2 separate regions of the Homo sapiens genome follow, and region 2 is linked to region 1. Evidence: fine-mapped expression QTL. Tissue or cell type: lung. Region 1 holds a variant in brackets; the other region holds the start of a gene. All regions are shown on one strand. Distances are between the middles of the regions.

Region 1 (15,636 bases):
TGTAAGCTCAGGCCAGCTGCAGTAGCTTGTACCTAGAATCCCAGTACTGTGGGAGGCCGAGGCAGGAGGATTGCTTGAGCCCAGGAGTTTGGGACCTGCCTGGGCAATATAGCAGGATACTGTCTCTCCAAAAAGAAAACTTTTTTTAATTAGCCAGTGTATTAGTCTGTTTTCATGCTGCTGATAAAGACATACCCAAAACTAGGAAGAAAAAGAGGTTTAGTTGGACTTACAGTTCCACATGGCTGGGGAGGCCTCAGAATCATGGCAGGAGGTAAAAGGCATTTCTTACATGGCAGCGGCAAGAGAAAAATAAAAAAGATGCAAAAGCGGAAACCCCTGATAAATCCATCAGCTCTCGTGAGACTTACTCACTATCACGAGAACAGCACAGGCAAGACTGGCCCCCATGATTCAATTACCTCCCCCTGGGTCCCTCCCACAACATGTGGGAATTCTGGGAGACACAATTCAAGTTGAGATTTGGGTGGGGACACAGCCAAACCATGCCAGGCTTGGTGGCACATGCCTGTAGTCTCAGCTACCTGGGAGGTTGAGGTGGGAAGATTGCTTGAGTCCAGGAGTTTGAGGCTGCAGTGAGCTGAGATGGCACCACTGCACTCCAGCCTGGGTGACAGAGTGAGACCATGACTTAAAAAAAAAAAAGGAAGCTCAATGAAGGGAGAGATTTTTTTTTCTTTTCTTTTTTTTTTTTTCGAGTTGGAGTTTCCCTCTTGTTGCCCAGGCTGGAGTGTAATGGCATGATCTCAGCTCACCGTAACCTCCACCTCCTGGGTTCAAGCAATTCTCCTGCCTCAGCCTCCCTAGTAGCTGGGATTACAGGCATTCACCACCACCCCTGGCTAATTTTGTATTTTTAGTAGAGACAGGGTTTCTCCATGTTGTCAGCCTGGTCTCAAACTCCCAACCTCAGGTGATCTGCCCACCTCGGCCTCCTAAAGTGCTGGGATTACAGGCGTGAGCCACCGTGCCCGGCCCGAAGGAAGAGATTTTTTATCTCCAGCTCCTAGAACACTACCTGGCAGAAAAAAGTGCTCAACACAAACTTGTGGAATGAGTATACCTGAGTTTCACTTGTTTCCTGCTTGCCCTCTGTCAGAGGCCACACCCAATTGTGGCACCTGGTAAAAGCCTCACTCATTAGAGTTTTGTCATTTAACTCCTTCCTGTAAGCCAGGTAAAACTGACCACATATATATGTAGATGCCCTTTTCCAATTTCAGTTTGGGGGCTCCCCTGGAGAAAGCAGAGGCCTCACACTAGAGCTAGAAGCGGCCCCAGGAAAATTCACATGGGGTGAAGTTTTATTCTTTCAAAGTAGCCAGTTTTGCCCCTTCGCATTTTCTTCTTCTTCACAGACATTTTCCCAATGGGTAAAACTTTTTTGTTTGATTTTAAAAATTCACTTTTTCACTTATCTATTCAGTGTTGCTTACTGAGTTCTGACCACTAATAAAAATAACCATTGTGTGTGTGTCTATGTGTGTGTGTACGTGTGTAAAATATCAGAAGATAAGAGCCTTGCATTGTTCTAAGAGCTGCTTGAAAATGTCTGTGTTTTGATAGCTTATGATGCACATTCGTGGGCCAGCCAATTATAGTGACAGCTCTTTAATGAAGAAATGTCATACACATTAATATAGAATTTGTATTTGCTCTTAGTAATACCTGTAAGTGCCTAGTTCAACAGTTTTTGTGGTTGAAATGCTAAAAAATACAACTGAAATGCTGTTGAACTCTAAATGGCTAAATGCATGTATACCTGTATGTTGTTTTATTTACAAACACATAAACATATGTGTGTATTTTATACTTAAATAATTTATTCTATATATATTTAATTTATTTTATATATATATAGAATAAATTAAGCAATAATGTCCCTGGGCCCAAAGAAAGTATTCTTCATTCTCCTGTTACGCCAGAAAGGTGTTTATTATGCTGAGGGAAGTTCTTGCACTCATAACCTCTAAGTGATTCCGCAGCATAGCTTAGAGGTGATGCTTCTTCCGGAGGAAGCCCTGAGTCATTATCTGCATCTTTCCTGAGATCTGGAGAGTACAAGGGTACCAACACCTCTCCCTCCACGAGGCCAGGGGGGATTAGGAAAGAGTCAGAGATGAAGGAGAAAAGGAGAAGAGAAATTGGTAAGAGGAAAAAGGGTAAATGTCTCAATTGTTTCCTCCTCTGATTACAGCCAGAGGAAGGCAGTCTGAGGGCCCCTTAACTAACTCCCTGTTAAGGTCTGGCAAGGATATAATGCATTTCATTTAGCTATGCTTCTGTTACTTGAATGGTTTGCTTTTTCTAAGGGAAATAGAATTGGGAAAGGAATTATAAGGAAGAGAATTTTCTTGCTTTTATTCTATTTATAAATGGAATATGAGAGGGACATGGAAATAGCATGAAAGAGTCACAATTTTCTTACGATCACTAATATCCTACACTAATGTATCTGGGTGGCAGAGCGGATGGAGCCATAATGGTGTTTGTTATGGACTGAATCATGTTCCCCCAAGATTCATATGTTAAAGCTGCACCCTCAGTGTGATGGTATTAGGATGTGGAGCCTTTGGGGGGTAATTAGATTTAGATGAGGCCCTGAGAGTAGAGTCCCCATGATGGGATTAGTGCCTTCTAAGGAGAGATCTCTCTCTCTCCACCACATGAGGACACAGTGAGAAGGCAGCTGTCTGCAAGCCAGGAAGAAAGCCCTCACCAGGAATCCATCAGCACCTGCATTTTGGGCTTTTCAGCCTCCAGAACTGTAGGAAATACATGTTTGTTGTTGAAGTCACCCAGGCTGTGCTATTTTGTGACAGTCGCCAAGCTGACAAAGAGAGTGTTTTACATGAATTAATTAAGCAGATAATTCCTGAGCATCACTAGCACTCTGGGTACTGTTGCGCAGTGAAGTATAGAGCAGTGACCAATCAGGTGAGCTTCTGCTTTCATGGGACTTCAGTTTGAGTGGGAAAATACGCCACATACCATAAACAAGTAAACAGACAAGTAAATATTAGATAGTGATAAGAGCCATGAACAAAACACAACAGAGCCATGCTATGTGGAGTGACTGGGGAGGGGCTACTTTAGATCAGGTCATCAAAGGAGGCTTTCTGGGCAGGGGACATTTGAGATGAATGACAAGGAAGAGCTGACTAGGAGACAATCTGGTGGAAAACGTTTGAGGCACAAGGAACCATGGTGCTAACATCAGGTCTATGTAAGACTGACAGTTACCCCTGAGTTAGGTCAAGCAAAGAATGAAGTGGACTTGAGACAGGCTTGAGTGTTAATACCCAAAAGTGAAAGCAAGAGATGCACAGCAAGAAATTCATATAAGAAACTTCAGATTTTGAATACCAATGAAATAACCATGGTTTCCGAGTGACCTCCTACTCCACACAAGTCCTCCTCTTGTATTTCCCGTATTATCGCCATACTCCATCCACACAACATGCAATATCCAAATACCATAATAAGGCTGGGCGCGGTGGCTCACACCTGTAATCGCAGCACTTGGAAGGCCGAGGCAGGTGGATCACCTGACTTCAGGAGTTCGAGATCAGCCTGGCCAAAATGGTGAAACCCCGTCTGTACTTAAAATACAAAAATCAGCTGGGCAGTAGAGGCATGTGCCTGTAATCCTGGCTACTTGGGAGGCTGAGGCAGGAGAATCGCTTGAACCTGGCAGGCGGAAATTGCAGTGAGCCGAGATCGTGCCACTGCACTCTAGTCTGGGCGACAGAGTGAGATCCTGTCTCAAAAAAAAAAACACAGACAAAAAAACCCAAATATTATTATGAGGTTAATCACATCATCATCTACCTTCAATTAATTTTTGTAAAATAATTTTAAAAATTAACATCTTATATTTGTGAGGTCCATTTGTTATAATTGATGAACCAACCAATGTTGATACATTATTAATTGAAGTCCACACTATTCAGATTTTTTTCTTTTCTTTCAGTGAAACCCTGTCTTACTTTGCTGCCCAGGCTGGAGTATAAGTGGCTTAATGAGGGCTCACTGTAGCCTTGACCTCCCAGGGTCAAGTGGTCCTCCCACCTCGGCACTCCCTATCTCCCTGCCCCTGACTCCCCTAAATAGCTGGGACTATAGGCACTCGCCACCACACCTGGCTAATTTTTAAATTTTTTTTGTAGAGATGGGGATCTCACTATGTTGCCCAAGCTCTATGCAGATTTCAAATGCCCTTTTCCTGTTAGGATCCCATCCAGGATACCACATTGCATTTAGTCATGCTTTCTTAGGCTACTTTTGGCTCTAACAGTTTCCTAGACTTTCCCTGTTTTTGCTACCTTTGACAGTTTTGAGCAGGGACTGATCAGGCAATTTGTAGAATGTCCCTCACTTGGGATTTATCTGATGCTTTTCTCCTAATGGGACAGTGGTTATGGGTTATTGGGAGAGAGACTACAGAGGTAAAGTACCATTTTCATCCCACCATATAAGAGCGCATGCTGGGCCGGGTATGGTGGCTCACGCCTGTTCCTAGCACTTTGGGAGGCCGAGGCGGGTGGATTACCTGAGGACGGGAGTTCAAGCCCAACCTAACCAACATGGAGAAACCCCGTCTCTACTAAAAATACAAAATTAGCTGGGCGTGGTGGCGCATGCCTGTAATCCCAGGTACTCAGGAGGCTGAGGCAGGAGAATCGCTTGAACCCGGGAGGCGGAGGTTGCTGTGAGCCAATATCACACCATTGCACTCCAGCCTGGGCAACAAGAGCAAAACTCTGCCTCAAAAAAAAAAAAAGAGTGCATGCTACCACCAGGACTTATCACTGCTGATGCTGACCTTGATCTCTTGGCTGAGCTTCCAAGTGATTTTTGATTCCTCATTCTCCCATCCCTGGAATCTATCATTCATCAGGCCTCATCTAATATATCTCTCAAGGTTCTCTCCCAGAACCCACTCCTCATCAGCATTATCTCCACAGTCTCAAGTCTAAGTTCCCAGACTGTTCTCAGCATCCTGCACCACGTTATCAAAGCTCTAATCATAGCCTTTCTCTGGCTAAATAATCCCACTTAGGAATAAAACTTTTGTCTTAGTTGGAAGTTAAGGTCCAAGGTTTTCAGTGTTGCTTTGGGGTCTTTTTCTCAATCTGAACGCAAGCTACTTTCCAGTTTTGGCTCCTGCCCTGAGATCTGGGTGCCATGCTAGCACTCCACCACACCCTCTGCTCATTCTGTCATGCTGCAGCAGTTACTGTTTATTAAGCTTCTGTCCTGTGCCAGGCAGCTTTCTGGGCCCAGGAATACAAAAAATACGAAGAAAGGCTTCCCTACACTCAAGGAATGAGGTGTAGTTGGAGTGACAGTCATTGTAAATGGATAATTGCAAGGTTGTTAGGTAGATGCGAGGTATTTATTTGGGCATGTACAAATTTTAAAGGGAGCAACTAGGCCAAAGCCCCTCACTGTGGCCCCAGTACTTAGGGGAGATTATACTAAGATAGTGATATCTGAGCAATGATTTCAATAAAGAAAAAAGTTCACCAAGCAGACAAGAGGCCAAGAGAAGTTCTAGGCAGAGGGCACAGCACGAACTAAGGCATGGCCACTAAGCAATTTAATATGGAAGTATTTGCAAAAGATGAGTAAGAGCTAAATTGTGATAAAGGAGGATTGCTTGAGCCCAGGAGGTCAGGGCTGCAATGAGCCCTGATTGTGCCACTGCACTCCAGCCTGGATGACAGAGTGAAATTCTGTCTCAAAAAAAAAAAAAAAAAATTCCTTGGCCTCAGTCCAGACTCAGAATCAGAATTTCTGGGGTTGGGGGGAAAGCCTGGTAATTCTGCATTTGTAATCAAACCCCAGGTACTTCTTGTAAAGAAAGCTTTGGAACACTGGTACTCTAAGAGAATAATAGAAAACAAGATCAAAACAAGAAGAAACTGGAGGCAGAAAGAGCAGTTGGAAGACACTTGCTATTGCCCCAGAGATGGCAAAGCTTGAACCAAGGAGACAGCAGTGGGGGAAGGAGGAGGGGCAGCTTCAGGAGGCCTCGAAGAGGCAGACTGTCAGAGGTAGAGCTGCAGACGCCACCCAGGCCTCTAAGGATTCTATCTTGAACACTTTCATAAACATTGGGAATATGAGAGACGGAATAGGTTGCTGGGAAAGATAATGAGCTCAGTTTTGGAACATGTTGACTTTGAAGTGAAATCCATAATGAAGAGCTGACACTTGAACAGGCTGTTCTGGAACTCAGGATAGAGGTCAGGGCTGGAGATA[A/C]GGATTTCTGAATCATTTGAATCACCAGTGTATAGGCAAGAGCAGGAAAAGTGAAATTCCCCCAGGAAGCAGGTGGAGTCTGAAGGGCCAAGAATGACATATGGAAGCCTTCAGCACTCCCGCCCCTCCTCATCAACCTTCAGCCTCATCTTTCTCCTCTGTGCCCTTCCCCCAATCTCTTTTTCTACCTCACACAATTTTATCAAAGGCCATCTCCCAGCTGTTACTATCCTAGATGGAATTAACCTCTGCACTGTGCTACGGTATTTCTTTGTACTCCCTTTATCACATCTCCAGTCATTTTAGATTAGGGCTAGTGTTGTCCCATTTTCTTTTTCACCTGTTAGAGGCAGAAGTATGTCCGGATTTCCAGTACCCAGCACAAAGCTGGTGTTTAGTAAATGTTTGTGGTCTTGTGGTGGAGATTTAAGGATTATTCATTCATTTGGACTTATAATCCTAGTGTCTAAAGTAAAAATATCTTTCTTTGATCAGAAAGAGTGTATACTTTATGCAACCTAAAACTTAGGCACTTAATTTTTAAAAACATTTTATTATAATAATTTAAAACCATTATGTAGTAACAGAATAATAATAAACCTCCAAATACCCATCACCCAACTTCAATAATTATCAACGCAGGGTCAATTCTCTTTTATCTTTACTTCCAACTCCATTGCATATTATTTTGAAGCAAATGCCAGAGAACATATCTTATCAGTAAAAGAGAAGAGTTTTTTAAAACCATAATATTATCACACCCCAAAAAAATAACAATAATCTCTTAACATCAATATCGAGTCATTGTTCAAATGACCAATTTTCTCATAAATGCAATTTCTTTTAATTTTAAAAAATTAAGATCCAAATAAGGTCCACATGTTGCAATTCATCAATATGCCTTTTAAATCTCTTTTAATCTATAGGTTTCCCCCTGAACCCCCTTTCTTGCGAATTATTTATTGACGAAATCAGGTCATTTGTTCCGTAGAGTTTCTCATAGTCTAGTTTTTTGCTGCCTTCATTCCCCCAATGTAGTGCAACATGTTCCTCTGTCCTCTCTATTTTCTAAATTGGCATTTGGAACAAGAAACTTGGTAAGATTTGAATTTGCCTTTTTGGCAAGACTTCTTCATGAATGGGTGTATTCTTCCTTCATCCATCAGGAGGTCCGTACTGTTTGGTTGTCTGTATTCTTGTTACGTTAGCAATCACTTCTCCTTAAGGCCTAGATCTATTAGTTCTTTAGAGGCCATAGAAAGGGGACTCTATTACTCCTTTGTTGTTTAGTGGCTGAATTAGTTCTTTAAACAAGAACTTCACCTCATGCACTATTTAGTTACTGGGGCATACAGTTCATATAAGGAAGGCAGAAAAAAATGGTAGAATTTATTTACCGGTTATCAGTTCAATAATGAGTTGCCTCCCAATCATCTTCTAAACATGACCAGTTTTTTGAGCATCATTATGGACTCATAGATTTAAACATATTTGAGATGTTTCAATCTATTGCTGGTATTATCCCTACTGATGTCAAAACTGTGACACCTTTGGCCATTGGGAGCCTCTTTAAGTTGGTTCTGCTGTCCTTTTGAGAATGACCCTGTAGTCCTCAATAGCTTCCTCACTACCTATATGACAAAGTGCTTCAGGGATCCCTTGTTCATTTCCTGCCCTAGACCTTGACTCAGCCATTTCTTCAAGGAGCCTGGCTCTTTGACATGGGAAATGGTATTTCAGGACATCAATCAGGGATTTGGGGGTGCTCTTTGCACCTGGGTTGGCTAGAGACTGACTTTAAATTTTTGAATTTCTCAGACATACTAGTGGCTAAAAGTGCAGGTGCCAGAGGTAGACTGTCTGGGTTTGAATCACCACTCTGCCACATATTATGTATGTGACACGGTGCCAGTTTACCAACTTATCTGTGCTTCAGTTTTTCTCAATTGTGAAAAGAGAATAATAACAGTAGCTAAATATGTAGAATCCTGTAAAGTTTAAATGAAGCGATTCATGTAAAATGCTTAGAATAGGGCCTGGCACATAGGGCTGTGTAAGCATTGACTATTATTATTCTTATTACTAGTCTCTTTCCAGCCTCATCATTGTTGCCTGCTTACACTGTGGGTCAACTGATATGCAACATGGACTTACATTTTATTCATATCTAGTGACATGCTGACTTATTTTAGAGAACTAGTCTAAGTTACATCTGCAACATTTGTCCTACTAATCTGCTACTTTAAATGATGCAATACTTGCACATATTAGAACATTTCCTGTAAAGGAATCCAAATTCAACAAAACAAATGGCATTCATAAGGTCACCAAGCACCAGTGTACTTTCTGCTTTTTATACTTGTCTGGAAAGGGGTAAATTAGCAGAAGCCTGGCTAGGAGTGACCCCACTACGGAGTTAAGGTCTTACTTTGCACTGGGGGCTTGGACAAGCCACATTCGTCTTGTCTTTCCTAGTTGAACACAGGGAGCTATTGGGGTGGCATTCCCCAAGCCCTCCAGATCCCTTTCTAATCAAACTGGTAGAATTACAAGACATATCCCAGATCACATAAATCTTAATGCTGGTTCTGTCTGGAAGCCCATTCATATTATGAAATCTTGATCTATTCAGCCATTTGCCATAATTCTTTCGTCAGGTTCGAGGAGTTAAGATCTCAGCACTGCTGCAACTGAAGACAGTGAAAGGGAAGCAGCAGACCTGTGGGCTGTTTCCTTGGTGGTCCATTAGACCCCAACAAAGCCTCAAGGTACATCTTCTCTAAACCTAAAAACCCTACGGAGCTCTAACAAGAACAGTCTCTAAAGTAGTTAAATCAAAGTTTATTTAAAGCAAAGGCATTTGTTTATCTGCAATTTTATATACTTGCATTACTGACATATAATTGTGCTATCATTGCATCAGCCATGCCAAGTTTTCCACAGCTCACTGGCTAGAAATTCTCAGGATGCACTAGGGTTCATTTGTGCTTAAACAAAAATTTACTTGCTTGTTTTATTCTTTTCTTTCTTTTTTCTCTTGACAGCACTCTTAGCATTTTTTTTTTTTACTCTTACCATTTTATAAAAATAGCTGTCATTAGATTACTTGACACTTAAAACACTTTGGATTAAAATGTAATTTTAATCACATATTTGTCAAGAGGAAAGTGTGAATAAATAATGGTAAATTTATGTAATAGAAACTATTAAGCCACTAAAATTATAAAATGTATTTTGAAATCTTGACATAGAAACATGAGAGAACAAAAACAAGCTCCAAACAGTTTGTATAGTAGGATTATATTTTAGTAAAATAATAATTATTTTACATGTTGGCATATGCATAGAAAAAAATCTGAACAAACAAGTTGTTAATAGGGATTATCTCCAGGGGTGAGATTATCATTGTCTTTTCCTACATATTCCTATAGTTTCTGAATTTCTTATGAATACTTATTACTTTTCCAATCAGAAAATGTTTATTTTTTTGAAAATCAATGTTGTTGTAACTTGTTCAGAAGAGTGAAATAATACATTATCCATTGTAATAATAATTTTAGTGAGATTTCTCATGGTAGCTTCTCAGGAAATTCTATAATACTAATAAGTTTCTGTAAAAATTGAAGTTATTAATACAATAACTGAAGTATTGAAAAACAGTATACTTAGTCTTCTCAGAATCCAAAATGATTTGGTGTATATTTTTATATATATGCAAAACCAAATGGAATTTAAAACTTTGAAATCTTTAGAACAATCAACAAACCACTTTCATTCATTAAGCATGCATTTCTGCTACATAGTCTGTGCCAGGCAATGTGCTAGGTATGCAAGTACCAGCTACACAGAGATGAAAAAGATCAACCCAATTTCTGTCCTCATATGATGGTATGAACCAGCCCTGTGGATATCCTGGAGCATAGGAATTATTAATTAGAAGAACTGCTGCATGTGAATAAACAATAAGCAAATTAATTAATTTTGTATGTTAAAGTGAATTTTTCACTACATAAGAGCTAAGTGACTGGAAAGATTGTATATTTCATCAGCACATTCAAATTTCACAAAATCATCACACACTGTAGGATATATGTTCAAATATATTCACACCTCCAAATCAAATATAAAAGAAAAGGAAAAATAGAGTGAAATCTTATTATTGTTTTCTACTGATATTTCACTTTTAGATGTGACATCTGAAATCTAAGACAAAAAAAGGCTTCTGCTTTTATTTTGAATCATAAAGTTAACAAGTCCATTTTTAAAAATCATGAGCACCAAATTCCTTAAAGATGAGATATTGTTATTTCATAACTTTCCATCCAAATCATGCCTAAATCATTTTTCAGTTCTTTGGAGCAGATGACGATTAAGGGGGAAAGGGAAGGAGGGATCAAAATGTTCACTTAAATGGAATTTAGTTTGTTTTTGTAAGGCTGAAATCCCTTGAAGATGGTATATAAACTACTACTTTAGGCCAGGGGGTAGCAAACCTTTTCTGTGAAGGGCCAGATAGTAAATCTTTTAGGATTTGTGGACCATGGACCATGCTGTCTCTGCCAAAATGGCTCAACTCTGTTGTTTTACGGCAAAACAGCCATAAACTACACATAAACAAAGGGACATAGCTGTGTTTCAATAAAACTTTATTTGTGGACGCTAAAAATTTTAATGTTATATAATTTTCACATGTCATTTTTCTTTTGATTTTTTTTTAATCATTTAAGATGTGAAATTCGTCCTTAGTTGGCAGACCTCACAAGAATCTGGTGGCTGATTGGACTTGACACATGGCCAACTGCCAGTCCCTGCTAATAGGCCAGTGCATGGTGCTTGGGATCTGCTGCTTCTCTTTGGTCCTGGTATTGAAGGGTAGGAGGTAGGAGAGGAGAATCCAAGAGATTTATAAAACAAAACTCTATAGATTTTCTAAAAACAATTTGTAAGACAAAACTCTATTGTTTTTCTAAAGACAATTCAAATCTCTTTATTAATCTAAGAAGTTACTATCGTGGCCGGGTGCGGTGGCTCACGCCTGTAATCCCAGCACTTTGGGAGGCTGAGGCGGGCGGATCACCTGAGGTCGGGAGTTTGAGACCAGCCTGACCAATGTGGAGAAACCCCGTCTCTACTAAAATTACAAAATAAGCCGGGCATGGTGACACATGCCTGTAATCCCAGCTACTAGGGAGGCTGAGGCAGGAGAATCACTTGAACCCGGGAGGCGGAGGTTGCAGTGAGCTGAGATCACACCATTGCACTCCAGCAACAAGGGCAAAACTCCGGAAAAAAAAAAAAAAAAGGAAGTATATTTTTAAAAGTTTATAAAACATTTAAAGAAACAATGAGTTTTAAAAGGATGCACCTGGAGAACATTATGCTGAGTGACATAAACCAGAAACAGAAAGATACTGTATGATCTCACTTACATGTGGAACCTAAAAAAGTCGAACTCAGGGCAGAGAGTAGAATTGTGGTTACCAGAGACTTGGGAAAGGGAAAAATGGGGAGATGATGATTAAAGGGTACAAAGTTTCAGTTATGCAAGATAAATAAGTTCTGGAGACCTATTATATAGCATAGTGCCTATAGCTAACAATACTGTATTGTACACTTAAAATGTGTCCAAGAGGGTAGCTCTTATACTGAGTGTTCTTACCCATACACACACAAAAATTAATAATATTAATAATAAAGGGGCTGGGAGAAAACTTTAGGAGGTGATGAATATATTTATGGTCTTGATGGTAGTGATGGTTTTATGGGTATATACTTATCCTTAAACCCACAGAGCTGTGTACTTTATTTTTTTCCCTCTTTTTCTACGTCTCACAGAAGACTTCTATACAGTTGTATACTTTAAAAATGTGTAGCTTTTTTGTTGTTGTTGAAACGGAGTCTCGCTCTGTTGCCCAGAGTGGAGTGCAGTGGTGCAATCTCGGCTCACTGCAACCTCCACCTCCCGGGTTCAAACGATTCTCCTGCCCCAGTCTCCCAAGTAGCTAGAATTACAGGCTCCCACCACCACACCCGCCTAATTTTTGTATATTTAGCAGAGATGGGGTTTCACCATGTTGGCCAGGCTGGTCTCAAACTCCTGACCTCAGGTGATCCACCAACCTCGGCCTCCCGAAGTGCTGCAATTACAGGAATGAGCCACCGCACCTGGCCTATGTGTAGCTTTTTATATGTAAATTGTACCTCAATAAAGTGTTTTTTGTTCTTTTTATTCACTTATTTATTTTGAGATGGAATCTTGCTCTGTTGCCCAGTCTGGAGTGCAGTGGCACTAGCTGGGCTCACTGCAACCTCCACCTTCTGGGTTCAAGCGATTCTCCTGGGTCAGCCTCCCCAGCAGCTAAGATTACAGACACGCACCACCACACACGGCTAATCTTTTTTGCTTTTTTTTAAGTAGAGACAGGGTTTCACCATGTGGGCCAGGCTGGTCTCAAACTCCTGACCTCAAGTGATCCACCCACCTCGGCCTCCCAAAGCACTGGGATTACAGGCGTGAGCCACCATGCCTGGCTGTTTTTTAAATTTTTGAGACAAGTCTTGCTCTGTTGCCCAGGCTGGAGTGCAGCGTTGCGATCTCAGCTCACTGCAACCTCCGCCTCCTGGGTTCATGATTCTCGTGCTTCAGCCTCCCGAGTATCTGGGACTACAGGCGCATGCCACCACATCTGGCTAATTTTTGTATTCTTAATAGAGACAGGATTTCACCATGTTGACGAAGCTGGTCTCAAACTGATGGCCTCACGTGATCCACCTGCCTCAGCCTCCCAAAGTGCTGGGATTACAGGTGTGAGCCACCGTGCCTGGCCTTGTTTTTATTTTTTAAGGGCAGCTCTGAATGAAGAGACATCCATTCCTTCCTATTTTTCTTGCTGAGCATTGGGAAATAATAATTTTTTTAAAAAAAGAAACTTCCTAGATTAATAATGAGAAGTAGTATCTGTTTATTGTTTTGTTTTAGTTTTTTGTTATATATGTCTTTTGAAACAGAGTCTCATTCTGTCGCCCAGGCTGGAGTGCAGTGGTGCGATCTTGGTTCACTGCAACCTCAACCTCTCGGGCTCAAGCGATCTCCCCACCTCAGCCTCTCAAATAGCTGAGACCACAGGAGCATACCACTACGCCAGGCTAATTTTTATATTTTTTGTAGAGATGAGGTTTTGCCATGTTGCCCGGGCTGGTCTCAAACTCCTGAGCTCAAGCAATCCACTCACCATGTCCTCCCAAAACGCTGGGATTATAGGCGTGAGCCACCTGGCCCTGCTCATTGTTTTCATTAGCATTTCTTTGATTACTACTTATGTGAACTTTTTCACATTTTTAGGCCTTCCATATTTCTTTTTTGTGAATTACTCATTGCCTTCCCCCCTTTTTTTGCTATTGAAGTTTTTTTTTTTTTTTTTTTTGAGACAGAGTCTCACTCTGTCACCCAAGCTGGAGTACAGTGGCACGATCTTGGCTCACTGCAACCTCCACCTCCCAGGTTCAAGCAGTTCTCCTGCCTCAGCCTCCTGAGTAGCTGGGATTACAGGCATTTGCCACCACACCCGGCTAATTTTTGTATTTTTAGTAGAGATGGGTTTTCGCCATGTTGGCCATGCTGGTCTCAAACTCCTGATCTCAAGTGATCTGCCCACTTCAGCTTCCCAAAGTTGTGGGATTACAGGCATGAGCCACCATGCTGGCTGAGATTGTTTTTCTAATTTATTTTACGCAAGCTCTGTATATTGTTACTGACCCTTTATCTATTATTAAGTAATAAATATTTCCCCATTCTCCCTTGCTGTTTTATTTTGTGGAGTGTGTTTATGATAGGTAATCTTATTGTAGTCAAAAGCAATCTTTTCTGCTGAGTGTGGTGGCTCATGCCTAATCCCAGAACTTTGGGAGGGGAAGGAAGCAGGAGAAACACTTGTGACCAGGGATACAAGACCAACCTGGGCAACATAGAGAGACACCCCGCCCCAGACTCCACAAAAAATTTAAAAGTTAGCCAAGTACAGTGGCACATGTCTGTAGTCCTAACTACTCTGGAGGCTGAGGCCAGAGGATCGCTTGCACCCAGGAGTTCGAGGCTACAGTGAGCTATTATCATGCCACTGCAAGCCAGCCTGGGTGACAGGAGGAGACCCCCATCTCTAAAATAAATTTTTTAAGCAATCTTTTATTTTGTATCTTATTTCTTTTCTCTTATGCTTAAAATATACTTCACCTTTTCAAAAGCACATATTCAATTATATGTTCTACTATTTGGGGGGTTGTACTTTTTAATATCATACTGTTGAGATTTGGTATTCGGTTTGTTATATAAGCTAGAGATCCAAAGCCATAATTTTCTAAATAGCTCACCTATTTTCCTGTGTTCAAATCCTTCCTCATCTGTAGTCCCAGCTCAGACGCACATATTCCACTTGGGTGACAGCTCACCCTACCCTGAATTTCTTGCCCTCCTCCTCTTCTTCCTCCCCCATAGCTTTTCCTTCTTTCTCATAATATAATCATCTGTGCATATATCTTCTATTGCATCACACTGTACACTCCTTGAGAGCTGGGACTGAGTTTGTTATCTTTGTGTCTCCCAAAGCCCTCATCCAGGGCCTCACACAGTTGTGAGAGGAAAGGATAAGTGATAATGACAAATTTCTAGATACATTTTGTTGCAAGTTTCATGTAATATTTATTAAACTTTTTTTTTTAAATGGAGTTTTGCTGTTGTTGCCCAGGCTGGAGTGCAGTGGCGTGATCTCGGCTCACTGCAACCTCTGCTTCCTGGGTTCAAGTGATTCTCCTGCCTCAGCCTCCTGAGTAGCTGGGATTACAGGCGTGCACCACCATGCCCGGCTAATTTTTGTATTTTTAGTAGAGATGGGGTTTCACCATGTTGGCTAGGCTGGTCTCGAACACCTGACCCCAGGTGATCCACCGGCCTAGGCCTCCCAAAGTGTTGGGATTACAGGCGTGAGCCACCATGCCCCGTCTTATTGAACATTTTAACAAATATTTATTTTTGTAAGCCTAAAAGTGATTCTTTGAATGTTTAAAGAAAGTGAACCAAAAGACAGTACACAAACACTAGCACCTGAATGCTGAATATCACCGTAAGTGTAAAATCATATATTTTAGAGTAGTGTGAGCTTTTAATGTTAAGTCATATTAAACTCTTAAATTAAGCAGACCCAGCATTGGCAGTGTAGCTGTAACTTTCTGATGTTAATAAAAACAAAATTGGTGACTCAAAATTAAATCATGCCAAGGTTTTGATACATTTGTCTTAAGATATTAATGAAACACTTCAAAACACTGATATGAAGTGCCCAGATTCTCAGATGT
Region 2 (15,636 bases), 49 kb before region 1:
TCTACAGAAGACAATTTGTGGAAATCTGGGTAACAGGTAGAAAGAGTTACTTTTCTGTGTATTCTTGTAGTACTGTTTGGAATTGTTACCTTGTATACATAAATAAATAAATGCTTTCGTAAGATTTGGGATTTTTATTGAGAGAAGATATTATAGTAATTCTAGAACTATACAGAATATGAAGATCAGCATCTTTCTCATTCAACAAACTGAGTGCCTATCACATCTAAGGCACTGCAATGCAGACACAATGCATACAGTCCTTTTCCTCAAAGAAAAAGGTCACAGCACCTTTCCTCAAGGAGTACACTGTCTGGTGGAGGAAAGAAATCAGTAACCATACCATTACCTTATATAGAATGATATATACTATGAAGAGGTAAGAACAGAATATTATGGAAACACGTGATGAAAGCAACTTAAAAATCAATGATCATCATTCCAAGAAACATAAATATCAATAGCTTAAATATGAAATTATCAACTCCTCCTTTGGGGTTAAAAAGGATGATGATGGCATTAGTCTGAGAAAATCTTAGCATCAGTAAAGCTGGGTCTCATCATTTTGCATACCTATGTCCTGCACTAGCTATCCACAAAGGTCACATTCATTCAAACACTACTGAGAACTATGGTTTTACCATTACAGTTCCCATCCCTAGTGCTGTCATCCTCAGAAGAACCTGATCCCTTTAGAAACAGGAACAAAAAGTCTCAAAGAATGTACCATAAGTATAGTATATCTGCAACATTTACTTCTATTTATTTAAGGGTTCCAGGGAAGAATCAAGAAATAGCCATTCAGTTTATACTTTTATCCTGGGCTAGCAAAGTACCTTAAAAAGGAACCATTAAATTGAGGCTTTGAATCAAGTTATTCTAATAAGTTGCTTGAAGGTATATTATGAAAATAAATGGCGGGGCACAGTGGCTCACACCTGTAATTTCAACACTTTCAGAAGTCGAGGTGGGAGAACTGCTTGAGCCCAGGAGTTCAAGACCAACCTGGCCAACATAGTAAGACCCCATCTTTAAAAAAATAAAAATAAGGCTGGGAGCAGTGGCTCACACCTGTAATCCCAGAATTGTGGGACACCGAGGCAGGTGGGTCACCTGAGGTCAGGAGTTCAAGACCAGCCTGGCCAACATGGTGAAACCCCGTCTCTACTAAGAATACAAAAATTAGCCAGGTGTGGTGGCACATGCCTGTGGTCCCAGCTACTCGGGAGGCTGAGGCAGGAGAATTGCTGGAACCTAGGAGGTGGAGGTTGCAGTGAGCCAAGATTGCGCCACTGCACTCCAGCCTGGGCTACAGAGCAAGACTCCACCTCAAAAATAAAATAAAATAAAAATAAAAATAAAAATATATTTAGGCTGGGTGTGGTGGCTCACGCCTGTAAACCCAGCACTTCGAGAAGACTGCTTGACCTCAGGAATTTGAGCCCAGCCTGGGCAACATGGCGAAACCCTATCTGCACGAAAAACACAAAAATTAGCCGGGCGTGGTGGTACGTGCCTGTGGTCCCAGCTAGTTGGGAGGCTGAGGTGGCAGGATCACTTGAGCCCAGAAGATGAGGCTGCAGTGAGCCAAGACTGCACCACTATACTTTAGCCTGGGTGAAAGAGCAAGACCCTGTCTCCAAAATATAAATACATAAATATAAAAGTTTTTTTAAAAAATTTTAAAAATAGCCAGCATGGTGGTGTGCACCTGTAGTCTCAGCTACCTGGGGGGCTGAAGTGGGAGGACTGCTTAAGCCCAGGAGGTCAAGGGTATAGTGAGCCATAATCATGCCACTGCACTCCAGCCTGAGCGACAGAGTAAGACTCTGTCTCAAAAGAAACAAACAAACAAACAAACAAACAAAAAAACTTGCCAGGCATGGTGGCTCATGCCTGTAATCCCAGCACTTTGGGAGGTCCAGGCAGGAGGATTGCTTCAGGCCCCAAGTTTGAGACCAGCCTGGACAAAAGTGAGACCATTGTTTTTTGGTTTTTAGATTTTTAAAAAGAAAATAACTACACATAAAACAAAGCCAATTAATGGACAATAGGTAACATGCTCCTTTTCAGAAATGTTTTTATAACATGGCAAATCCTTTAAGTTTACAATAATATAGCACTAAAATAGCATGTTTTCTAAACACTATTCCATGCAGTTATTTATCAGTGGTTCCACATATACCCATCACTTCATTTTAAAAAGGATTTGAGAGAGTTTGCAAATCACTAAAAAAAAAAAAAAAAAAAAAAAAAGACCACAAATTTGACACTCAGTTGCCCAGGAACCAATCTGAAACATAATTCACCATATCCATGAGGAGTATACTACTTATTCCCAACTTTTAAAAATAAGAAATGGCTTAACCAGAAATTATTCAGAATCACAAAAATGAAAGTGGGGAATGGACAGGGCATGACTTTCTTGTGTTTAGAAGCATCCACTTCCTGGGAACTTGGACTTTATATTAAGAACTGATACCTAATATTTAAACCATATGTCACTCAAAATCTTAAAATTTCTAATACATGCTACTACGCCAATAAAAATGATCATATAATAAATGGCTTCATGATAGTAAAAACTAGTAATTTTTAAGCCCCAACCCATAATCTGTATTTATGAGCAATATTCAATTTTATACAAATTTTCATGGCAATTAAATTTTGGCAGTCTCTGAAACTGATTTAATAAGCACTAATATTCTTTTCTTTGTCTTTACATTCATGGTTTCCAAGTCCTATCAATTCGTCTTTCATACAGCCTCTTCGTAAACTAACTATAAAAACAGATTCACAGCCAATTAAAGAAAGCGTGCTTCTTATACTCTTATATTCCTCCCTTCTATTCCATTTTCACTGAATGAACAAATAATGAAATAGTTCAGGCCCTACTCATCTTTCTCAGAACTACTGTAATAGCTTTCTAAATAATTCATCTGCTTTTCCTTCCCACCTATCTTGAATATTGTCACCAATTTTCTAATACTGCTTTCACGGTGCCTTGCCTCAGTTCAAATAACCTTCAATGGCTGTCTTCCCAAAGCCAAAAGCTCTAATTCGAGAAGGGGTGAAAAACAATAACTTTAGAAACAACAATTAAAAAAAACAATTTTGGTTTCATAATATAAATTACCAAAAGCAAGGGCAACTGGATAGCAGAGCATGGATTAAAGTGGAATGATAAAATCCAAATTCCTTAATTTGGCATTCAGTATCTTTCAGAATCCAGATCTACATATTTTCGGTCTTAATTAACCTTGGTTTAGAACATGTCCAGAGACCAGTTCGAAGTCACCCTTAATTATGTTTGCACTGCTCTCAAATCGATTTCTAGCCAGAGTTTTCTGCGCATATCCTCAAAGCCTAACTTAACCAACCACTAAGCCAAGTATTTTCCCATGAAAAATGGCCCTCAAGTGAGAGGTTTTAGTCTCACTTCAGTTACTGCATTGCGATGGAGATGCTCTGGGCACAACAGCAAACAGTAAAATTACAACTTATTAACAGATGAAAATCAGGGCTTACTCATAAATAACGTAAACAGCAATGTTAAACAGACAAGTGTCAGTGATCTAGAAACCCTCTCTTCCAGGCAGGCTAGTCTATGCTTCTAACCCTGCTCTGCACATTTCTCACCTTTGTCTCACATCAGTCCTCTCAGTAGCCCTGAATCTTCCAAACTTATTTTAGTTCCAAAATCACAATATAATTATTTAATAAGCATATTTTTATTTTTTTAAAAAGCTAAACATTTTTACCATTGCCTGTTAGAGACCCCCAATGATCTGGGTGGGTAAGGCCACCTCTTCACTCTCCCACTAGTTTTTCTCACTAGTCTTACACTAGATTCTCAGACACAAAGAGCTCATTCCTGCCTCAGGGTTTTGCCCTGAAGTTGCTTGGAAATGTTTTCTCTCTGCAGCTCAAATCTCACCTTCTAAGCCTGTCTTAGTGTCACCTAACCTAAAAAAGCCCCCATAAATCCCCATCATTCTCTATGCCATTATCCTGTTTATTTTCCTCATAACACCACTATTCTGGGTTCTTTATTTATGTGCTTATTATCTGTACTCTCCCAAGGGGGAGCATGTGTCTTGCTTATTGCTATACCCTCAAAGCTTAGAATAGATCCTGTCTCTTGGTAGGTAATCAATAATGGGTTGAATTAATGAACAAACTCTTGAATGCATTAAGAAATCCAGACACATTGAAAATGGTTAACTATCCACAACCATAATCACAATGTTCTTACACTTACTAAAAAAACTAAAGTTTCCCAATAGGTATCATCAATATGGAATTAGGGAACTCTGTAGAACAGGCAATATTCTTTCCCCATTGCCTTCCAACCTCAGCATTCCAACACACAAGATTCCAAGAGAGTGCTGTCACCCCCTGAATCCCTAATGTTCAAAGACAGAACTATTTTCTTTGTTCCCATACCAATACAAGATTAGTATGCTTTTGTCAATCATTAAACTTCCTGTGGCCAGGCGCAGTGGCTCATGCCTGTAATCCCAACACTTTGGGAGGCCAAGGTGGGTGGATCACTGGAGGTCAGGAGTTCAAGACCACCAGCCTGGCCAACATGGTAAAATCCCGTCTCTACTAAAAATACAAAAATTAGCCAGGCGTGGTGGCAGGCGCCTGTAATCCCAGCTACTCGGGAGGCTGAGGCAGGAGAATCACTTGAACCTGGGAGGCGGAGGTTGCAGTGAGCCAAGATTGCGTCATTGCACTCCAGCCTGGTGACAAGGGGGAGACTATCTCAAAAAAAAAAAAAAAAAATTCCTGTTTAAAAATATATTTCATATTTTTCTCTTACCTCAGTTTCCCTCAAGTATGTCTTTTTCATAAAGAAAAAGGAAAAGATTGAGTTACTCCTCATCTTCTAAGACCTTTAATATGGCAATTAGTGTTTTGAGTAGTATGGGGGTGAGGAGTCCGTCAACATCAAAATATTACTAAAAAGCATCGCAATTGGCTTATTTTCCCCCATTATGGAGAAGTGAATTGAGAAAAAAAAAAATCAGACTGATTTTCTTTTAAGAAATGAATCACCTCTAACATCCTACAAGGCTATGAAGATTTCCAAGCAGGCAGTTACACTACTTGATTCTTGACCTTTTATACATAAAGGTCCTACTGCTAGTGGGACACTTTCTGTCCCCGAAGTAGCAAGTACTTATGAATGTATCTAATATTATGCATTCTCAATCTCTAACAAACGTGATTTTTTTCGCTTCCAAAATAATTTCCCAAGATGAAAACGGCAATAAAACAACGTGACTAATAATAACATACAATCAGGAACTTAGGTGAATGAAAGAACTTGAAAACTATTTTACAGACCATACATAGTCATGCCTCGCTGAACAGGGGGAACAGGATCTGAGAAATGTATTGTTAGGCAATTCTGTCGTTGTGCAAACCTCACAGTATACTTACAGAAACCTAGATGGTAGAGCCTACTACATACCTATATGTAGGCTATATGGTATAATCAATTGCTCCTAGGCTACTAACCTATACAGGATGTTACTGTAGGCAACTGTAACACAATGGTATTTGTGTAGTGTTTATCTAAACATACCTAAAATAACACTGTACAAAGGATTAAAAGATGGCACACGTGTGCAGGGCACTGGCCATGAACAGAGCTTGCCAGCCTGGAAGCTGCTGTGGACGTGAGTAGTGAGTGAATGTGAAGGCCTAGGACATTACCATGTACTACTGTACAACTTACAGACACTCTACGGTTAGGCTACACTAAATTTATCTTTAGATATATTTTTTCAATAATAAATCAACCTTAGCTTACTGTATCTTTTCTATTTTATAAACTTTTTGGCTCTTTTGTAATAACGTTTAACTTAAAACACAAACACATTTTAAAGCTATAGAAAAGAAATTTTATATTCTTATTCTATAAGCTTTTTTCTATTTTTTTTTTAACTTTTGTTAAAAACTAAGATACAAACGCATTACCCTAGGCCTACACAGGGTCAAGATCAAGACGTCGCTAGGCGGCAGGAATTTTTCAGCTCCATTACAACCTTATGGAGCCACCGTTGCAAATGCGGTCTGTCCTTGACCTAAACGTCGTTATGAGGCACGTGACCGTATTTTGATTCTGTAACCTAAAACATATCCTTCTGAAAAACAGTATTTCTAACCAATATATATGAAAATGTCTGTCTCAAAACATTTCTCTGTGTCTCATGGTAAATCTGCCACGAGTTCAATTAGCCAATTCCTGGCAAGGAATCCACAGGTTTTCCCTTCTTTAGGAATGTCAACCATTTTGCCTTTTATTTTTTTCTGTAAGATTCAATTATGATGCACTAAGAGGCTGGGCCAAGTCCACACTAACAGCAATTCCTCCGACCCTGCAGCTGAAACCCCGGCAGAACTACGCCCCCTCGAACACAATGCCTAGATCCCCTTTCCCTGGCTCGGTTTAGCTGGTGGGGAGCAGTCCACATCACACCCCGGGGAGCTGGGCGGTGGCAGGACTTTACCAGAACTCTCTCCTTCCCATTTCTCCACGCACCACACCACTGGAGGCGCTCTCCCTTCACTGCGGTTGGGTCAATGTGGACGTTTTCCACTCGGCCAGCTCCCCACGAGCACAGGAGGAGGGGGAGGGGAAGCGCAAAGGGGCCACCCACGCCAGCCAGGAGGTGAGGAGGGAGCCCGGGGCAGAATGCAGGCCAACAGACCCGCAGCAAAACTGCACCTTTTCCAAAGGAGCAACCCAGACGGGTAGACAAAAGCACCTCCTAAAAATATCTGGGTGCCAAGGCCTTTCCTTCCTCACCTCGAAGCCCAACCAACCCGATAAATCCACAACCCTGGCTCTCGGGTATATACCCGGCTCCTACTACGGGTGGGTGCCTAACTTCCGAGAATCCGTACGCTGGGCATCACACAGGGTGAAAGTGGGAGCCGGGAGCGGTGCACGTGTTCCCCGAAACCAAGACGGACAATAAGAACAAACCCGGGCTCCAAGGGCCGCCCCACCCTTCTCCCCGCGCTTCCAACCAGACGGGGCGCCATCGCCCCGAAGTCCGCAGACAAAGCGCCCTCGGGGCGGAGAGGAGGGACCAGCCCAAAGCATCTGGGGCTGCACACAAAAGAGGGAGGGGCGCGAGGGGCGGCGCGAAGCGAGAGGTCGCGGCACTCACCCACTGAGCCCGAGGAGCCCCTGCGCTTGGGCGCGGCCGGGGTGGAGGGGGGCGCGGCGGGAGCCGGGGCTGGCGGGGTCCACACGGGCTCTGCCTGGGGGCTCACGCTGGCCGGGGGAGGAGGGGGAGGCCGGGCCGGAGGCTCGTCGTCCTCAGGGAGCTTGGAGGGCGAGACTGCGGCAGCAGACAGCGGGGATGGCGCGGGCACGGTCGACGACACCGGGCTCGGGTCCCAAGACGGCTGCCGCTCCGGGGCGACGGGGGGAGCGGCCGGCAGGGGTCCCCGGGGCGCCGGCGGCACGAAGTCATTTCCGAAGTCCATCAGGGGCGCGCCGGCGGCAGGGGCGGTGGGCACTGGGGCCGCGGACAGCCCGGCGGCGGGCTTCCTCTCCAGCACCTCCAGCTCCTCCAGGTCTTCGTCCTCGTCCTCCTCTTCCTCCTCCTCTTCTTCCTCCTCGTCCTCGGGCTCCCTCACGAACTGGTACTTGAACGCGGGCTGCGGCCGGGGTGGGCTGTCCGAGGACGAGACCAGAGGAGACTGGTCCAGGTCTTCCATGGCTGGAGGGTGGAGATGATGCTGCAGCTGCTGCCGCCGCCGCCGGGGCCGCGTCTCAGAGCCGCGGGCGGTTGTGGGGGTTGGGGAGGACTGAGAGGGGCTGGGCCGACTGAGCCGAGGGACCTACTGTGGTGACGGCTCCCGGAACAATGAGACTGCTCCTCCTGCCTCCGCGCCGGTGATGCGCCACCCGCCCTGTCCCCACTTGCCGCCGCCGCCCAGATGAGCTAGGAGTGAGGCCAGCGGACTCTCCGCCCAGTTTGGCGTGACTCACCCTCCCCAGGGGAGGGCAGGGACTGGCGCGGGAGGGAGAGAGCCAATCGGCTACAGGATCGAGAAGATAGGCGACCAGCCGGGCCAACAGAAAGGGAAGGAGATGAAAGTGGGTGGGGACTACGGCACTTCCTCTCTCTTACCGGCTGGGATTGCGTTCAATGGGCGGGGCTGAGAGCTGGGAGCTCCACCCCCACTTTGGGTAACCGTGAGTTGGGGTGGGGTCTTGGCCTTGCCCGCAGCTGGCGTCCGTATGTCGTTAGAGCACTGGGAAAGGGGGCGGGCTGCTGGCTGGGAGGGGTCGGCGCGGTTTCTGGCGCGCCACCGGAAGGGCGTTATCCTGGGGGAACTGAGAGTGGAAACTTTCCTCCCGGGAAAGGAAGAAACCCGACTGGAGAAAGGTATTAGCGGGACTGGGAAGTGGGCCCTAAGGATTTTTAAAGATTTTTGAAATAAAAGATTATTTGTTCACTCAAAGTTCCAAACTACATCACTACTACTACCACCCTAAAATAAGAAAAAAATTGTTTTTTGACAGTTAGGCTCACTCAGTCTAAACCGCAGCCCCCGAAATTGGGAGGAAAACAGCTGTGCTGAATTAACTAGGGATCTGGGGCCGACCATTTGAAAGTCTGCTCTTCTTCCAAAGAGAGTTTGGGGCCTTGCCTGCTGGACTCTTACATGGTAAGAGAGTGAGTCACCCAAAGAGAGAGGCAGCGGGGAGACAGGAAAGTGGAAATACAAAGATGCCTTGGAAAGCTAATTTGGTTCACGTTACATTTCAGTCACCTTAGGTTCATGAGTCAACATTTCGGATGATTCAGGCTTTCTGGGAGTCAGGAAGCCCCATAGTCATTGGTTTGATATGCAGGAATAAGCATGATCCCCATTCCACTTTTTATGAGGCTGGAGAGTTTAAAGAGAGTAGTTGCAGAACATCTTTGTAAGAATCAGGATCCTTTTATCTTTCTGATTTACCTTTCAAAAATATTCACTGCATGCCTACTCTGGAGGCCCTGGAGAGAAGAGGATAACCTGCTTTCAAGTTGCTCAAAGTCTAAATCTGTGCTGTACCTGACAGGTACTGGCTACTTGTGGCTACTGATTGAACACTCGGAATGTATGTAGCTAGGCTGAAATTAGATGTGCTGTAAGTGTAAAATGCGCACTGGATTTCAAGAATTAGTACCTCCGAAATGTAAAATATCTCAGCTTTCCTGTTGACTGAATGTTGAAATTGATATTTTGGATATATTGGGATAAGTATAATATTATTAAATTAATTTTACTTGTTCCTTTTAAAGCAGCTTCTAGAGTTTTTTAAATACATAATGGCTCACATTATATTTCTTTTGGACAGTGCTAGTCTAGATTAATAATTAAGAAAGTTTGATTGCCATGGGGAATCACTGGCAAATTCTTAGCTCCAACTAATTTATATTACTGTGGCTTAATTTGGGTATTAAAAAAGAAAAGTAAGAGTTGGAGGGAGGGATAAATAGGTGGAACACAGAAGATTTTGGGGGCAGTGAAACTGTTCTGTATTATCCTGTAATGGTGGATACATAACATTATGCATTTGACAAAACCCACAGGACTATACAACAGAAAGAGTGAACCCTAATGTAGACTATTGACTTTAGTTAATGATATATCAATATCAGTTCATCAGTTGTAACAAATGTACCACCTCAATGCGTTATGTTAATAATAATAGAGGAAACTGTGGTTAGGGGGCAGGAGTGAGAGTGTATGGGAACTCTGTACTTCCTGTTCAACTTTTCTGTAAACCTAAAACTGCTCTAAGAAATAAAGTTTATGAACCTTTAAAAAAGGAAAAGAATAAAGATTTCCTGGCAATGTTACTTGATTGGGTTAATTATCAACAATATATTCAAGACCTATCACATTAATTCCACGGAGAACTGGCTTTATTTGTGCAAAACGTTTGTGACTTGCTTTGAGTTTGGTGTTATTTTTTGGAGGGGTTGGGAAGAGTAGGAAGAGAGATGTATTGATGTAGAATTTTGGGGCGGGAAGTTAATGCCAAATGAATTTAAACAAAACAAATTTCTACAATGGTGACTACAAGAGACATATTTGAAGTCTTTGTCAAATATTTATCAAAAATTATAAAAAATTTGCCTGATTTTCAACCAATTGCATAAACATACAAAAATATACTAACAGTATTTTATGATACGACCTTTTCTATTGTCACAGTTTAGCTATCAGCAGTCTTCCCCGCATGCTTTTCCCACTATGACTGTTCTGAAATTCCTTAATGATAAGTTTCACAGGGCCTTTATGTATGTCTAATATAAACAGGACTTACGTTATTTGCAAGTTGTTTATATGATATTTCTGCATTCATATATCCCTGTACCTACTACTACTAAAATAGTCTCAAAGGAGTATCTTTAATCAAAGTTTCACAAAAGAATAATTATAAATAGTAGATTTACAATTTTAATAGGAAATAGCAGTTAATATTGATGCAATAATATAAGCACTATCTGGTGCAGAATAAAAATAAATTTTATTAATCTCAGTGACTTCTAAAAAAATAAGTATTTGATAGATAGATGAGTAAAGAGTTTGCCCAGCTTTCATAGAATGATCAACAAAGCAAAAAGAAAGGAGGCTGTTGCTGCTCTACCACAATTAAAAGTAAAGCTAGTTATACATTGTTGTAACTAGATGTAAATATCACTATCACTAACAAAATTCTGGTGGACATTTGAACCAGTTAAAAGAAAAATGCACATTCTAGATACTAATAATAGTTTTAAAATAATTATTCAATAATTTATATTTGAAAATAGCTTATCAGACGGGCACCGTGACTCATGCCTATAATCCCCGCACTTTGGGTGGCTGAGGCGGGTAGATCTCTTGAGGTCAGGAGTTTGAGACCAGCCTGGCCAACATGGTGAAACCCCATCTCTACTAAAAATACCAAATTAGCAGGGCATGGTGGTGCACACCTGTAACCCCAGCTACTTGGGAGGCTGAGGCAGGAGAATTGCTTGGACCTGAGAGGCAGGGGTTGCAGTGAGCCAAGATCATGCCATTGCACTACAGCCTGGGTGAAAAGAGCGAAACTCCATCTCAAAAAAAAACAAAAAAAAAAAGAAACAAAGAAAAGAAAATACCTCATCAGAAGTAGAAGATTAAAGTTTTCAGATACCACTGGTTAGTAGCTGTTCTCTCTGAGAACACTACAAGAGATCCAGCCTGCTAGAATCATAGAATCTTAGGGTTGGGAGAACTTTGGGAGGTCAGCTTAACCAATCTCTCTTCCATTATCATGGTCTCACTTATAAGCAAGAGCTAAATAAAGTGTACATATGGACATAGAGTTTGGAATGATAGTGGAGACTCAGAAGACTGGAGAGAAGGAGAAGGGATGATGAGAAATTCCTTATTGGTACAATGTACATTATTAGGGTGATGGATACACTAAAAGGGTGACCACTATGCAATCAATACATGCAAAAAAATTACACTTGTACCCATAAATTTATACAAATAAAAAATTTAAATAAAAAAATTCTTAAGAGTACCAAAATGATGTTTCAGTCTCTTTTAAATAGAAAGATTGAATGTAATTCAGAGGTGCTCTTGAACACAGGCCAGTCATTTTCAGTAGGTGAAAAAGCTGTGGTTGACTGCTCTTGAAACAGGTGTGTCTGTAATCCACCTCTCATCTTTCTTATCTTGCTTAACCATCCCTTTTGTGCTTTCACTTTATACTTTTTAATAAGAGAAATATTTGTTGGGTATACAGTCTGCACCAGGCCCTGCTCAAGACTTTGAAGAATACAGCACTACGCCAGACACAAACGTGCTTGCATGTTTTCAGTAAGAGACCTATTACTTGGGGAAATCACCCCTTCCATTTCTATAGTATTATACCTTATTTGCAGAATGCTAAATTGACACCTAAACTGGTATTTGTAGAACAAGTTAATTGTCCTTGAATTATGTATGCCCCTCAAAAGAGTTAAAAGGCGTAGGATGGGTATACTCTTGCCTACATATAGCAGGACGTGAACACCAGAGTGGGTTCGGTAAGAGAAGAAAGATGAGAGGTGGATTGTAGAGAAACCTGTTTCAAGAGCAGTCAACCACAGCTTTTTCACCTCTGAAAATGACTTGCCTGTGTTCAGGAGCGCCACTGAATGACATCTGACCTTTCTATGTAAAAAAGACTGAAATATCATTTTGGCACCCTTAAGTGAAAAATTAACAGCGTGCTAAGTTGTTGTCCCTATCATTTTGCTGGGATTTTAGATTTTATGAAATGTACCATTTTGTGAAATGCAGTTCATGGTTCTGTTCAACATCTTAACATATTAAATCCATTCTGTAATAAGAATAGAAATATAAATGTAAGATCAACTTCTTCAGTCATGTTAGTTAAGCATTGACAGTTAGTGTTGGATCTAAAATAAAAATGTTAAGTCCCAAAAAGAAATCCCATAATAAGCAAGTGAAAGTCATAATTAAAACTGAACCAAATCTTTCTCCTTTAACTGTTTTCGGTCCCCTGCATTATTAGAAATTAGGCTATTTGAATATGCATTGTTTCCCTGGAGAAATTTATTTTGATCTAGCAAAAAAATTATTTCAGATACGAGAAAGTTAATTTTGATCTACTAGTACAAAACCAAGCAGAAGACATCCTATGCTGTCTTAGACAAATAAAAATGTGTCCTCATATGAAGAAAGAAGGCAGAAAAGAGTCCACAAAATTTAACAACTCATTCTAATATATAACTTATTATTTTTAATACTTAAAGGTTGAAGTGTAAGTTCTGTTATTTAATCTTCAATGGAGATAGATAGAAACCAAGTGGTCACTGTCTTTAAACATTGTTCATTGATTCAACTAAAACCAACTGACCTTGGCCGGGCGCGGTGGCTCACGCCTGTAATCCCAGCACTTTGGGAGGCCAAGGCAGGCGGATCACGAGGTCAGGAGATCAGGATGATCCTGGCTAACATGGTGAAACCCCGTCTCTACTAAAAATACAAAAAAAAATTAGCCAGGCGTGGTGGCGGGCGCCTGTAGTCCCAGCTACTCGGGAGGCTGAGGCAGGAGAATGGCGTGAACCTGGGAGGCAGCGCTTGCAGTGAGCAGAGATCGCGCCACTGCACTCCAGCCTGGGCAACAGAGCGAGACTCCGTCTCAAAAAAAAAAACAAAAAAAACAAAAACAAAAACCTACTGACCATCTAGGCTCTGGTGATAAATAATAGATAAAACACATTTCCTAATGTCAAAGAATGCATAGTCTAGTTTACATAAGAATGTATATCTATAAATATGTGTATATATAGATGTATACATGTATATACATATATGTAGATGATATAGATTTATGTATCTATATATACATATATGTGTTTGTGTGTGTGTGTGTGTGTATATATATATATATATCTGTACACACACAGTAGTTCCACTTAATCCATGCTTTCACTTTCCGTGGTCTTAGTTACCCTCAGTCAGCTGCAGTTCAAAAATATTAAAATGAAAACTCCAAAAATAAACAATTCATAAGTTTTAAATTGTGTTCTGTTCTGAGTAGCATGATGAAATCTCAAGCAGTCCCCTTCTGTCCCTCAAGGGAGGTGAATCATCCCTTTGTCCAGTGATCACACTATCTACGCTCCCTGCCCTCCCCTCGTGATAGTCACTTAGCAGCCATCCCTGGGATCAGATCGGCTGTCATGGTATCACAGTGCTGCATTCAGGTAACCCTTATTTTACGTAATAATGGCCCCAGAGTATGAGGGTAAGGACGCTGGCAATCTGGATATGCCAAAGAGAAGTCATAAAGTGCTTCCTTTACATGAAAAGGTGAGCCGGCTGTGGTGGCTCGTACCTGTAATTCCACACTTTGAGAGGCGAAGGTGGGCAAATCACTTGAGGTCAGGAGTTCGGGACCAGCTTGGGCAACATGGCGAACCTGATTTCTACAAAAAATACAAAAATTAGCTGGGCGTGATGGAGTGTGTCACCCAAACTGGGTGACAGAGCAAGACCCCATTTCAAAAAAAAAAAAGTCAGGTAGAAGTGAAACTTCTCTGGATATCCTCTTTCTGTAGTTTTGACCTTCAAATTATGTAACTGTATTGCCTATTTAAAAAGTATTTAATTTAGAAATTATTGTTGAAATAAGTTCCCAATATAGTGATTATGTGTTCTGCATCACAACTCAGGATGCCCACTCTGTTTATTAAAGCAGAGTAAAAAACACAGGTCGGAATTTTAAAACTCAGGCCTATGTAACAAAGCCAGAAATTTTACAATGGAGAATCAGAGGTTATGCAATAAGATATAATTCCTAGGTTTAGGTAGTAGGCTTGATCTCAAAATAAGGCTTGTTATCCAGAAAGTAACCCAACCCCCTTCATAGACCTCTTTGGGATGCTTTGAAAACTTCTGACCCCAGAAAAAATGCACAAACACAAAACATAATTTTTCAATGGTTCATGCATGTTTCAAAGCCCATCCATGGATGTCAATAAATTTAGCTGCCAATACATTTACATTGCTCTCCTATTTAACTGGAGATGAATTTACATACCTGAAACAACTAAATAACCATACAGTGGTATTAAATATCTGCATAGCTTAGCAAGAAAGCCAAATAGGGAAGAAATCAGTGGGTCTGATATGATGTATGCGGATTTTTTGGAGGAGCTGAGAAATGACCTCACTCTCAAAATAGTAGGATTCGGAGGCATAGAAGGTACAGAAAATAGAGCATAGGCATTTGAGAAGAGAGCAAAGTATATATGGGAACCATAGGACACAGGTCTAATTGAAGTAAGGATTTGTGTTAGCAAATTGTATAAGGAAAGCACCTAGCACAGAGTCAGGCACTTGGGTACTCAATCAATAGTAATTATTATTATTATTGCTACTATTAGAGCAGAATAAGGTCACATAGCTAAGGTGAAGCCATGTTCTAAAGGACCTTGAAAGTCACAAAAGCAATTAAGACTTGATAAGTCACTCTATTTTTGAGCAGAAGAACTTGATTGAGCAAACTATTTGGAACATGTGAAGAATGCGTTTGAGAAAGCGAAAAGAGGATGGGTACTAAGAGTAGTTCACCCAGGCCTGGTGGTTCACGCCTATAATCCCAGCACCTAGGGAGGCCAAAGCAGAGGCTTGCTTGAGGCCAGTAGTTTGAGAACAGCCTGGGCAACATAGCAAAAACCTATCTCTACAAAAAATAAAAAATTAGCTGGGTGTGATTGTGCATGCATGTGGTTCTAGCTACTTGGGAGGCTAAGACGGGAGGATCGCTTGAGCCAAGGAGGTCAAGGTTACAGTAAGGCATGATTGTACCATTGCCCTCCAGCTTGGGCAACAGAGCAAAATCCTATCTCAAAAATAAAATAAATAAATAATAGAGTAGTTCAGTGGGTTTTGATCACAAAGCTAAAGAGAACTAAAACTAGGATGGTGGGACTGGAAATAAAGGACCTATTTGAGGGACTTTAAAAACTGGAGAGGCCTCAGGGACTGATTCATGATCTACAAGGGATAAAGGAGAGGGAAAAGTTGGAGGGAATATTTTTAAATTTACATTATTAT

Alleles and levels. Positions count from the first base shown, and alleles are read on the strand shown. Sizes are in standard deviations (SD) of each study's normalised expression.
For the expression in lung of the gene that starts at base 7,897 in region 2, A is the high allele of the variant in region 1 and C is the other (small effect, 0.31 SD a copy in GTEx).

Evidence for each region. PIP is the estimated chance that this variant, and not a neighbour inherited with it, causes the effect.
Region 2: RTN4 starts here. The variant in region 1 is fine-mapped to the expression of RTN4 in lung (GTEx, PIP 0.94).

What each region holds. Positions count from the first base shown.
Region 1 is chr2:55,091,536-55,107,171 of GRCh38, forward strand. It overlaps a transcript of RTN4 not described here. Among named protein-coding and RNA genes, the nearest start is that of RTN4, 49 kb to the left of the region's middle. The variant A/C (reference allele first, on the strand shown) is at 6,289.
Region 2 is chr2:55,042,555-55,058,190 of GRCh38, forward strand. It overlaps RTN4 (reticulon 4), which reads right to left and starts at 7,897. Exons shown (of 9, transcript NM_020532.5): 1 at 7,191-7,897. The coding sequence starts at 7,746. RefSeq lists enhancers at 6,903-7,715, 7,678-7,727 and silencers at 7,218-7,337, 7,478-7,537.